Regions from separate parts of the Homo sapiens genome. Here regions 1 and 3 are each reported to be linked to region 2. The links are microRNA targets in miRTarBase. Many come from high-throughput screens and were not tested one by one. Region 2 holds a microRNA gene; each other region holds the end of a gene's coding sequence.
Evidence for each region. The annotated mature microRNA hsa-miR-4446-5p reads AUUUCCCUGCCAUUCCCUUGGC and lies in region 2 at 1,168-1,189, shown strand. An mRNA with a match to its seed (bases 2 to 7 or 8) in the 3' UTR can be bound and repressed. Matches are read on the target gene's strand: a 7mer-m8 pairs with bases 2 to 8, a 7mer-A1 pairs with bases 2 to 7 and ends in A, and an 8mer does both.

Region 1: the mRNA of KCNMB4 is a reported target of hsa-miR-4446-5p. Seed matches in the 3' UTR shown: 7mer-A1 at 2,001-2,007.
Region 3: the mRNA of CHD5 is a reported target of hsa-miR-4446-5p. Seed matches in the 3' UTR shown: 7mer-m8 at 1,883-1,889.

The regions. Positions count from the first base shown.
Region 1 is chr12:70,430,038-70,433,289 of GRCh38, reverse strand. It overlaps KCNMB4 (potassium calcium-activated channel subfamily M regulatory beta subunit 4), which reads right to left. Exons shown (of 3, transcript NM_014505.6): 3 at 1-2,805. The coding sequence ends at 2,637. Among named protein-coding and RNA genes, the nearest start is that of PTPRB-AS1, 36 kb to the left of the region's middle.
Region 2 is chr3:113,593,716-113,596,967 of GRCh38, forward strand. It overlaps MIR4446 (microRNA 4446), which reads left to right and starts at 1,161; the gene lies at 1,161-1,227. The region is part of intron 10 of SIDT1 (SID1 transmembrane family member 1); the gene reads left to right.
Region 3 is chr1:6,103,454-6,106,705 of GRCh38, forward strand. It overlaps CHD5 (chromodomain helicase DNA binding protein 5), which reads right to left. Exons shown (of 42, transcript NM_015557.3): 39 at 3,163-3,252; 40 at 2,942-3,056; 41 at 2,781-2,834; 42 at 1-1,974. The coding sequence ends at 2,827. Among named protein-coding and RNA genes, the nearest start is that of KCNAB2, 59 kb to the left of the region's middle.

The DNA.
Region 1 (3,252 bases), not on the chromosome of region 2:
TCTTACATGAGCCATCATATTTTGGGGTCTCTTTGTTACAGCAGTTTAGATCATTTTCTGATTTATACAAAAAGAGAATGAAAACATTAAGAAGGTAAGCTTATTTACCTTTTATGACCTTAAAATGTCCTCTGCTTGTTCTTTTGGGTTTTACCTTTAACAAGTATAAATAAGGTGCTTCAAATTTAATTGGCTGTAAGCAAGTAAGACCTTAAGACTACATGTGACCTTATGAATTCAGTGTGCTTCTCCCCTTTTCCAAAAATCAACCTACAGAATACAGTTGCATATACTTTTTCGGGATAAATGGAAGCGTTTAGTGTAAATGCATGAATATCAAACTGATAAATGAAAACTAAGATTGATATATATCAACTTCCCCTTTTTTCAACACAAATGTATATCCATGCACTATTCTAATCTACTACTCTGTAATCAATTAATCATAGACAACTGAATAAAGATAAAATGGATAAAGCAGACTTCGTCTCCCATAATGTGATGCAGAGATGATTATTTCTCGGACTCCCAGTTTCGTGTTACTCTATGCTTCAGAATAGTTCACTGTGTTGCTAAGACAACAAGGATGCTGCAACCGGAAACTGGGATTGAAGTCAAGGCACTGGAGCTGCCTCAAAAGATGTCATAAATAGTGTGTTCAAGGCCTTTTTCACAGTGAAACTGTAACTTTTGAATTAGAAAAAAAATTATTGGAGCCAAGCACGGTGGTGCACACCAGTAACCCCAGATACTTGGGAGGCTGAGGGAGGGGGATCGCTTGAGCCCAGGAGCTTGAGGCTGCAGTGTGCTATGATCATACCTGTGAATAGCTACTGCACTCCATCCTGGGCAACATAGCAAGATACCCATCTGTTAAAAAACAAAACACAAAAATAAACAGAAGAAGATTATACTCAATTCAACACCTTTCCACAGACTATGATTTTCAGTTATTCACATTCTAAGATTAAGAAAACATTGGCCTGTAATCCCAGCACTTTGGGAGGTGAAGTGGGCAGATCACAAGGTCAGGAGATTGAGACCATCCTGGCTAACACGGTGAAACCCCGTCTCTACTAAAAATACAAAAAAATTAGCCAGGCGTGGTGGTGCGTGCCTGTAGTCCCAGCTACTCGGGAGGCTGAGGCAGAGGAATGACTTGAACCCAGGAGGTGGAGACTGTAGTGAGCCGAGATCGTGCCACTGCACTCCAGCCTGGCAACAGAGTGAGACACCATCTCAAAAAAAAAAAAAAAAAAGAAAAAAGAAAACATTGGTATGTGGACTAAAGGTCAGGAAACCATCACTCCATATATACATATTACAGCTCCATGGAAATAACTGAGGGGAACTTGTCTTTAAATTCCAGTTTACCTTTATTCTAATAGAGGCATGTCTGAAGAGTATCAGAAGAAAACAAATGAAATTAGGTTGTCAGTTTTTCCTCCACTAACGATGTACATCTCACCTAAACAAAGGTTTGATTCTATGTAGTAAATAGGTTTGATGTTCACTGAGACCTGCGATTTGATACTTGGAATTTGAGTTTATAAAAAGATACAAAGAAATATGGTCTTCTCAATCAACTTTTGATAAAGGCACAGAAAGCTCATCAGTAGCAATGATGTGAGCTGGGTTGCATCTCCAGGTTTGTCTAAGCAAACTGCACAATGGCAGCAATCCTCCTGGTTTTAATACTCATAACATCAAGGCAAGGACAAAGAAAAAAAAATGCTTGAACTGATTTTGTTGTTTTTTTCTGACCTACAAAAAAAAAAAAAAATGAAAACAGCGTTTCACTAAGCTGAAGAGTGTCCTTCACATCATGTATATTGTATTGCACACAAACTTTTTTAACTCCGTCAAAAACAACAAGAACAGATGAATAAGGAAGCCCAGTGCTTTTTGAGATAGAAGCCTTCTTCAGAATCACCTCCCTCTCTTAAGAAGTAATCTGGTGAAAAATAATGGTTAGGCAAAGGCAGGTGTTGGAGGATATGTTTTCCCAATCTTTTAGAATCTCTTGCTTAAGAGACACAGAGGTGACTGGAGACTGAGTTACCAGTATACTATTCATTTTCCAAGCAGACGTCAAAAGATACTCTTTAATAGTGGAAACTGAGGGTTACACAGTAAGGTTCAGACTTCAGCAGGAATCCTTGTTGTCAAGTAAAAGTTTAACCTAGCAGAAGCAAATGAGACCCAGATGTCCTCACCTTTTTTTTTTTTTTAAACCCTGGTGTTCTAAGCATAAAAAAGGAAATAGAAAATAACACAGACCACTCTATTTTAATATTTTTAAGTAGCATAAATCATAATGGTTTGTATACTACACTGTACAAATAATATACTGTTACTTTTGAAAGAAAATGAACTTCTTATAGGGTTTTCTGAAATAGTTACTCCATACAGCTAAGATCTTGACCCTTTAGCCATTGCTACAGCAGATGGAATACAAGCTTTGAGGTTCCAAGTCTTCCAGTTGTGCCTGTTTCTGTTGCCACTGAGGGATGAGCCTCTCAGAGCCCTGTCGTGGCCCTGTCCATCTCCTGCGCCAGGAAACACAGGTTCCGCAGGTGGACGCGTGCCGATGAGTACAGCTTCTGTACTTTGCTTTCTACAAGCCTCCTTCCCCTTTAAGAGAACTTGCGCTTCTTCATGGCTTCCGCCTTGACCGCCAAGCTCTTGGCACAGATGGTCAGGACCACAATGAGAACGCCCACCACAAATGTCACCAGGGGCCAGAGGAAGCAATGCAGGAGGACAATCTCATCATGAGTGCGATGCAGAAGCACATCATCTGGTCTGCAAGACAATGGAGAATAAGAAAGAAAGGGCAGTCAAATGCCTTGGCACTGAAAAACTCTTTACAACCTAAAGCCAAACTTGCTTTCCATAACCATTATTGAAAGTAAAGGCTGCACTCTGACTATAAACACTGTATTTTTGTGCTTCAAACCCATTACAGAAAGTTTTGAGCTCTTGAGTCAAGTAATTGGTGCAAATTTATGTATTAATTATAATTTACATGTTACAAAGTGTCAAAAATGTATCTCTTATGCTATGATTTTTCTTCATTCTAAGTTACTTAATGTATTCCACTTTCTCATTCATCCTCTAATGTCCATTGGTCAAGGGGCTTGAATCAGTCAAAAAATTACTGATGGGTGAGCATTCTCCAACAAATCTGAACTAGACCTCAGCTCATAGGTGTGGCCCAAATGATCTTAATTCAGATAAAAAAAAAAAAAG
Region 2 (3,252 bases):
AATGTATTGTGCCAACTCTGATACATGGTTTACTTTTTCCCAAACTAAGATGGAGGCTTTCTTAAGTGTCTAGAAAACTGAAATACTTGACCCTAGCAAGTATAATAAAGAGTATAATAACTTGGGGGAATCCAGAGTAATTGACTATCCAGCAATTGTACTATGCCTTTTCCTCCACTCTGAGAGTTTGAACAAAAGAATTCAATGACCTGATCTTTTTAACAAAATTAAAAATTTAAATGTCCTCATTTTTGAAAAACCTAAACTCAGTGCTCATAGGTTATTTGGCATAGAGCAAGAATTTGGTTAAAGAGGAATATGAAGTGGAACTTGGTTTTTAAGTCATACATAGCAGATGTTTAGGTGTGTGTTTTCCACACTTAAATGAGGCCACAGAATCTTAGAAAGACTTTAACTCACCCCCTACCCCCCTCCAGCAGGATCATTGCTCCCTTTGCTGGAGAGTTTGCTTTTTTCTTTTTAATGTTTGTCTTCCTTAATGTCAGCATGCCTGTTTTTCCAGCCACCCAAGCACTTTGTTTTATAAACATTCAGCTGTCAATATAAAAGACTATAAAAGAACACCTGCTCTCGTGGCTTTAAAGTGCTAAATGCTCCTCTCCCTTTTAGTCGTCAGATGTTTAAATGAATTTGTCTGCTCTCTGGATGTCATCTTTTTTCCTACAGGAAAAAAGTTTTGTGCCTCCAAGTTTTGTGATTAGTTTAGGCCTAGTTGAACTTAGGCCTACATCCAATCGATTGAATCCCATTGGGTAGCCTCTGAATGGTTAGTCTGTTATTTTTTATAGTATGAGTGAAGTCTTTTTATTATAATAATATTTATTGAAGGAATTCTGCATTCAGAAGGGTCTGTTGAACATTGAAGCATAAGTGGACAAAGCTGGGACTTGAGCCAGATCATTGTCCAGGTTCAGGGAGGCTCTGAAAATTAGCTAAGAGCTGGAGGTACCCTTCTGATGGTAAGCGGAAACAAATGAGTGACCAAAAAGAGTAAAGATGCATCATTGAGATTCATGTGGCTGTAGGTAACCACAGCAACAAGAAAAAAAAAATCTCAAACCTGCTTAATCAAGAAAGAGACTCCTAGCTCTGGAAGTAGAGCCAAAAGATGTACTTCAGGATTGATGAGTCCAGTGGCTCTGGTCCATTTCCCTGCCATTCCCTTGGCTTCAATTTACTCCCAGGGCTGGCAGTGACATGGGTCAAGGCTCACACCTTCACCTGGCAGCACCAGAGGGAAGGACCTTTTAAGAAGCCCTCAGCAACTTCTTGTGTTTCATTGGCCTAGAGTGAATCATACACTTATTGTTAAACCAGTCACTGCAAAGAACAGATTTACCTACACATCAGATAAACCTACTTTCAGAATTAAGATTAGGTCCTCTTCTCTAAGACCAGAGTTTCTCAAACTCAATATTATTGACATCATAGGCCAGATAATTCTTTGTTGTTGGGGGCTATTCTGTATCTTATAGGATGTTTAATAGCATCCTTCACTTCCGTGCACTAGATTCTAGGAGTTGCCCCTCCTTGGGACAACTAAAAATGCCTCCAGGCTTGGTGCAGTTGCTCATGCCTGTAATCCCAGCATTTGGGGAGGCCGAGGTTGGAGGATTGTTTGGGCCTAGGAGTTCGAGACCAGCCTAGGCAACATAGTAAGACTTCGTCTTCATAAAAACAAAAAATAAACAAAATTAGGTGGGCGTGGTGGTGTGCACCTGTGCTCCAGCTACTTCGGAGGCTGCTATGGGAGGATCGCTTGAGCCCAGGATGTTGGGGCTGCAGTGAGCTGAGATCGCACCACTGCACTCCAACTTAGGTGACAGAGCAAGACCGTGTCTCAAAAAAAAAAAAAGCCTCCAGACATTGCCAAATGTCTTTTTGGGGGCAAAACTCTTTCCCCACATCCCCCTGTTTGAGAACCATGGACCTAAACACATGAAGACACCTAAATAACACACCAGCTTAGGTAAGAAGTAGGGAATAGGAATATTCACCACACAAAAGTCTTGAAATAGGAAGAAAATAAGGAACCTTTGTAAGGTAGAGAGGCCACAGGGAATGATGGCATCACCCCCAATGTCATGACCACTGGTGAGTCAAGACCTAGATGCTTAAACCAAGAGCAGAAGACAAGCACTGCCCAAGGGAAGAACCAGTGACTTTTTTAGGCATCTCAAACAGAGCATAGAGAAATCAACCAGGAGCAAGAGACAGAGGCAAGTAAGGACCATATCTGGAAGCTAGTGACAGACATTCAGGGAAGAAACAAGGATACAGAAATGTCTTTCTCTCCCAAGGCCAGGATCAGCATGACCATGGGGCACAGGAAGTTCGATGGAGCTCAGAGTTACAGGAAATGCCTTGGGTGCTTATATCCAGAGAAAATGCTAGAAGCAGCTTCTTAAAGGGGAAGAGGATCCCACTAGACTTAATACGGTCTCTGCCCACATCATTGTGGAGCTAGATATCTGTGGAACTTAGCCTAAGGCTTTCACCTTAGACGTGACTGAAGTGGAAGAAATGGAATCAGGTCCCTACAGGTTGCCAAATTGGTGGCAGCTCTGTTGGAGTTAGGAAGGATGCACTCAGAAAATCTGTGCGCTACTCTGCATTTGTTTTTCTTTGATATGCCTGAAGTGATTTAATTAAGCTGTATGTGAAAATCTCCATGTTAGCTCCAACTATAATAAAAAGCAAAAAAATGTATTTCATACTTCATGGGATGAAGAAGAAGATTAGACCCTGGAGCCTGGGTGAGATGGAAATACTGTTGGCAAAGAGCTGCTCCAGGGGACTTGAAGGGACTTTTTTACTGTACTATGAATGACTGGACCCTGTATTGTCTAATTATCCTTAATACCAAAGACAGGGCATCTGTGAGAATCTGAGAGGTACTAAGAAAGGCTCTGTGCTCTAAAACCATTTCCTCCACTGGCTTTATCAGAGAGAAACCCCACATTTCACATCATTGTTAAAGAGCCTCTACAGAAATTCAGTTACCAGCTGAGAAAAATAATGAAGCCTCCCCAACAGGCCTCTGGGACCCCTTGAGTTGCCACCAGGAACTGGGGTACAACAGAAGAGGAGGTTACTTTCTCAAATGCAAGAGCTTGGCAGGCCTAATCGGTTGTAGATTTAAGAACCAAATGGCCAACCCAATCCTTCCCTGGATACAGCCATTACTGAACCAGCCTCTTAGCCAAGAGCAAGATCTGGTGGAGATAAGAC
Region 3 (3,252 bases), not on the chromosome of region 2:
CCACAGGCCTCCAGTCCTGCTGCTCGGGACCTATCTGCTGTGGGCCAAGGAAGGTGGGCACTGCTCCCAACGAGGGCCAACCCCAGTGCTTGCCACTGCTTGTTTGGGGACGAGGGCACGGGAGTGAGCTTCTGACCCGAGCCAGGACCCTTTGCCAGGAGGCACCGCAGAGCACACAACACGCATGTGGATGAACCATAACATGTGAGCCCGCTGACAATCATCTCCACTCCAGGGTGCTCCCCACTACGCCCACGTGCAGTGTCAGGGTCGGGCTGGCCTTGCAGACCTGGATCCAGACTGGAGTGTGGGAATGCGCCAAGAGGAAGGACTTGTAGGTCCCGCCCTCCGGGGTTCAGAGACAGCCTCATTATGAGTGAGGCATATAGGGCTTAGGGAGGGCCAGGCAATCGCTCCAGTGTCTGCAACACAAGCTGGTGAATCCTGACCCAGCCCTGGCCCCCTCAGTCCCAGGCAGGCCCTCTCCAAGGAGCTGAGCCCCAGCCCGTGTGCACCTCCACCCCAGGCCCAGCTGGGTTTTTCACGCAGCCCTTTCCTAACATTCCCAGGATTCTGCACCCCAAGGCACCTTCCCTGGGAAGGTCCCAGTACAAGACTCAGAAACGCCTTCCAGGTCGACCTGGGGCCAGGAGAAGGATCACACACAAACAGGCCTAGGGAGGGCCTGACCTGCTCCCCATCTCCGTCCCCAACTTGGAGGGGCAGGGTCCGGGGGAGTGGGTGGGATTCCAACAACCCACATGTGGGAAGATGGTTTTGGGATGTCAGGGCGCTCCTGGCAGGAAACAAGGCAGCAAGCCCTTGGTGCTGCGGCTGGGAGGGGTCTGCAGAGGGCACTGGGTCCAGTCCCCCTCCAGGCAGAACTCTCCCCACGCCTTCCAAGAGTGCAGCCTCAGGCAAAAAGCCCCCGGGAAGGCCTTTCCAGGGACAGGGGAATGGGACAAGTCCAGGCCCCCAGGGGCAGCCCGGTTCCACCTCCGGAGGTGGGCAGGGTAGGCATCCCAGGGCACAGGGCAGGGCCAGGGTCTCCTGGGCCAGCTCAGGGCCCATGACCCTCCTTGCTGGGGCGCAGCTATCACTGCCCTTAACCACACCTCTGGCAGAAGGCAAACCCAACGCAGCAGTGGCTCCGAGGCAAGTGCTGCCCCCCCCCCAGCCCACCCTCCCTGGGATCATACGCTTCTGCCTGCTGTGAAGAGCCGGGGCCACAGGCCCCCCACTGGTAACAGAGTCCAGGGCCTTCAAGATGCGCTGGGCCGGGGACAGACACCTGCTGGCAGAGGATCCACCTCCCCACAAGGAGAGAGCAAACACCTGGCGGCCTCCAGCCTTGGCAGGAAGGAGGGGAAATGTCAGCCAGGGTCTCACCATAGGGCTGGACAGCGGCTCCCCAAACCTGCCCTGTCTGGTGCTGGGAGGCTCCAAGCGGGCAGGGGGCCAAATCAGAAGGGGCTGTCACACAGGTGCAGACAGGTCAGGTAGGGGACACTGAGGGCTCCTAGGGCACCGGGCGCCATGTCCTCCCCAGCTGGGCTGAGTCCACAGGGCAGTGCCAGGACTACCTTGGGTCTGGAACCCATCGGTAAAGAGACATCAGTGCTGCAGGTTCGAATCTTCCATACGTCATCCAACTTTTATCAAGACAAACGTGTTCAAGTCTTCAATAGGAAAGTGCAAAAGATGTACAAATAAATGAAATCTCTTCTAAGAAGTCGTCTGGAAAAGGTGGCGAGGGGGCACGTCCGGCGTGGTTGTGGGGGCAACGCTGTGTGGAAGAACACTTGAATTATGATGAGGTGGCACTTCTGGGCTCTGGCCCAGCTGAGCTGGGCCTCGTCCTCCATGTGATGGCATTACTAGGTTTCCCTTTTTGTCCCAAGGTGGCGCTGGCTCCTAAAAAGGTGGCAGCTTTTCTCTCCCATGTGGGTCGGGCAGGTGGCCCGGCAGGCGTGGCTGCAAAACGCAAATCAGTGGGTTAAGCAGGTGGGCAGTTATAGGGGGCATCAGGGTGGCACCCAACAGCCTGTAGCTGCTTCTCCACCTATCACAACCAACTATGATCGGGGTGCCCCCCAGCCATGACCTCCCAGCCACAGGCTGCCGGGCCAGGCCATGAGCTACACCCAGAGTGCCGAGAGCACCCAGGAAGCAGCAGTGGGCAGGGGCAGCCAGCCAGGAAGCCCCTCTGGAGCCTCCTCCAGCAAGACACGGTTCCCACAGGGACAGACACAGCGTAGTGGAGGCTGGTGGCCCCAGAGAAGACCAGAATGAACTGGCAGTTTCTCTGAAATAAGCCCCCTCTCCTGGCCAATAGCCCCCACAAAACCCTCAGCCACCCTCCTGGTCCTGGGCAGGAAGTGAGGGTGTAAGACAAGATGTGATGTCTGCCACCAGCAGGACAGCAGGGGCAGGACAGGGCTCCAGGCGGGGGCAGCAGTCTCTGACTTCCGCTGGGAACATGTGTGCAAATGAGAACACATGTGCACACACAGGAGCTCACCCAAGTCCACCGACCCCTTCATGTCCTGCCACCCCAGCCTCCCAGTGGACAGACACGCTGGCCACAAGGTGGTCCCAGGGCCAAGGGGGCAAGGTAGAGGGGCTCCAGGCAGGTGGGTGGCTCTCAAAGCCGCCGGAGGCAGTAAAAGCTCCAGGACTTAGGGACGGGAGTCAAGTGCAGGGGCAGGGCTGACTGTGGCCAGGCCTGGTTTGCCAGCAATGGGGTGGCGGGGAGGAACACAGCACCCAGCAGCCCTCACCTCAGCTGGAAATGAGCGCTGCAACACAGGGAAGTCTCGAGGACGGCTAGATATCTGTCAAAAAAAGAGGAGAGCCGGGCTTGCCTGACGTTGGCAGCAGCAGGCAGGCCGGGCCCGGCGGGCACCCGTGTGCATGCTGCCCGGAGCGGACGGGCACCTACCGGTCACATAGGGCCCCAGGGGCATCTGGTTGTAGTTGACAATCCCTCCCGGTCCAGGGCCCCGGAAGTTGGGCCCAAAGTTGTTGCTGTACATCTGGGAGGAGCCGAAAGCGCCCTGGAGGCAAGGACTCAGCTTCACAGGTGGTCTCAGGCCCCCCACCCAGCCTCCACCCAGGGGCACGCCAGGGGGCTCGGGCCGGGGCACACAGGCCGAGCCTGACCTGCTGGATGGTGGGGTCCCCGGCGCGGTTGGTCAGGCGGCTCAGGATGCTGCGCTCCGACATCTGCAGCCGGGCGGCCACCGGGGGGAT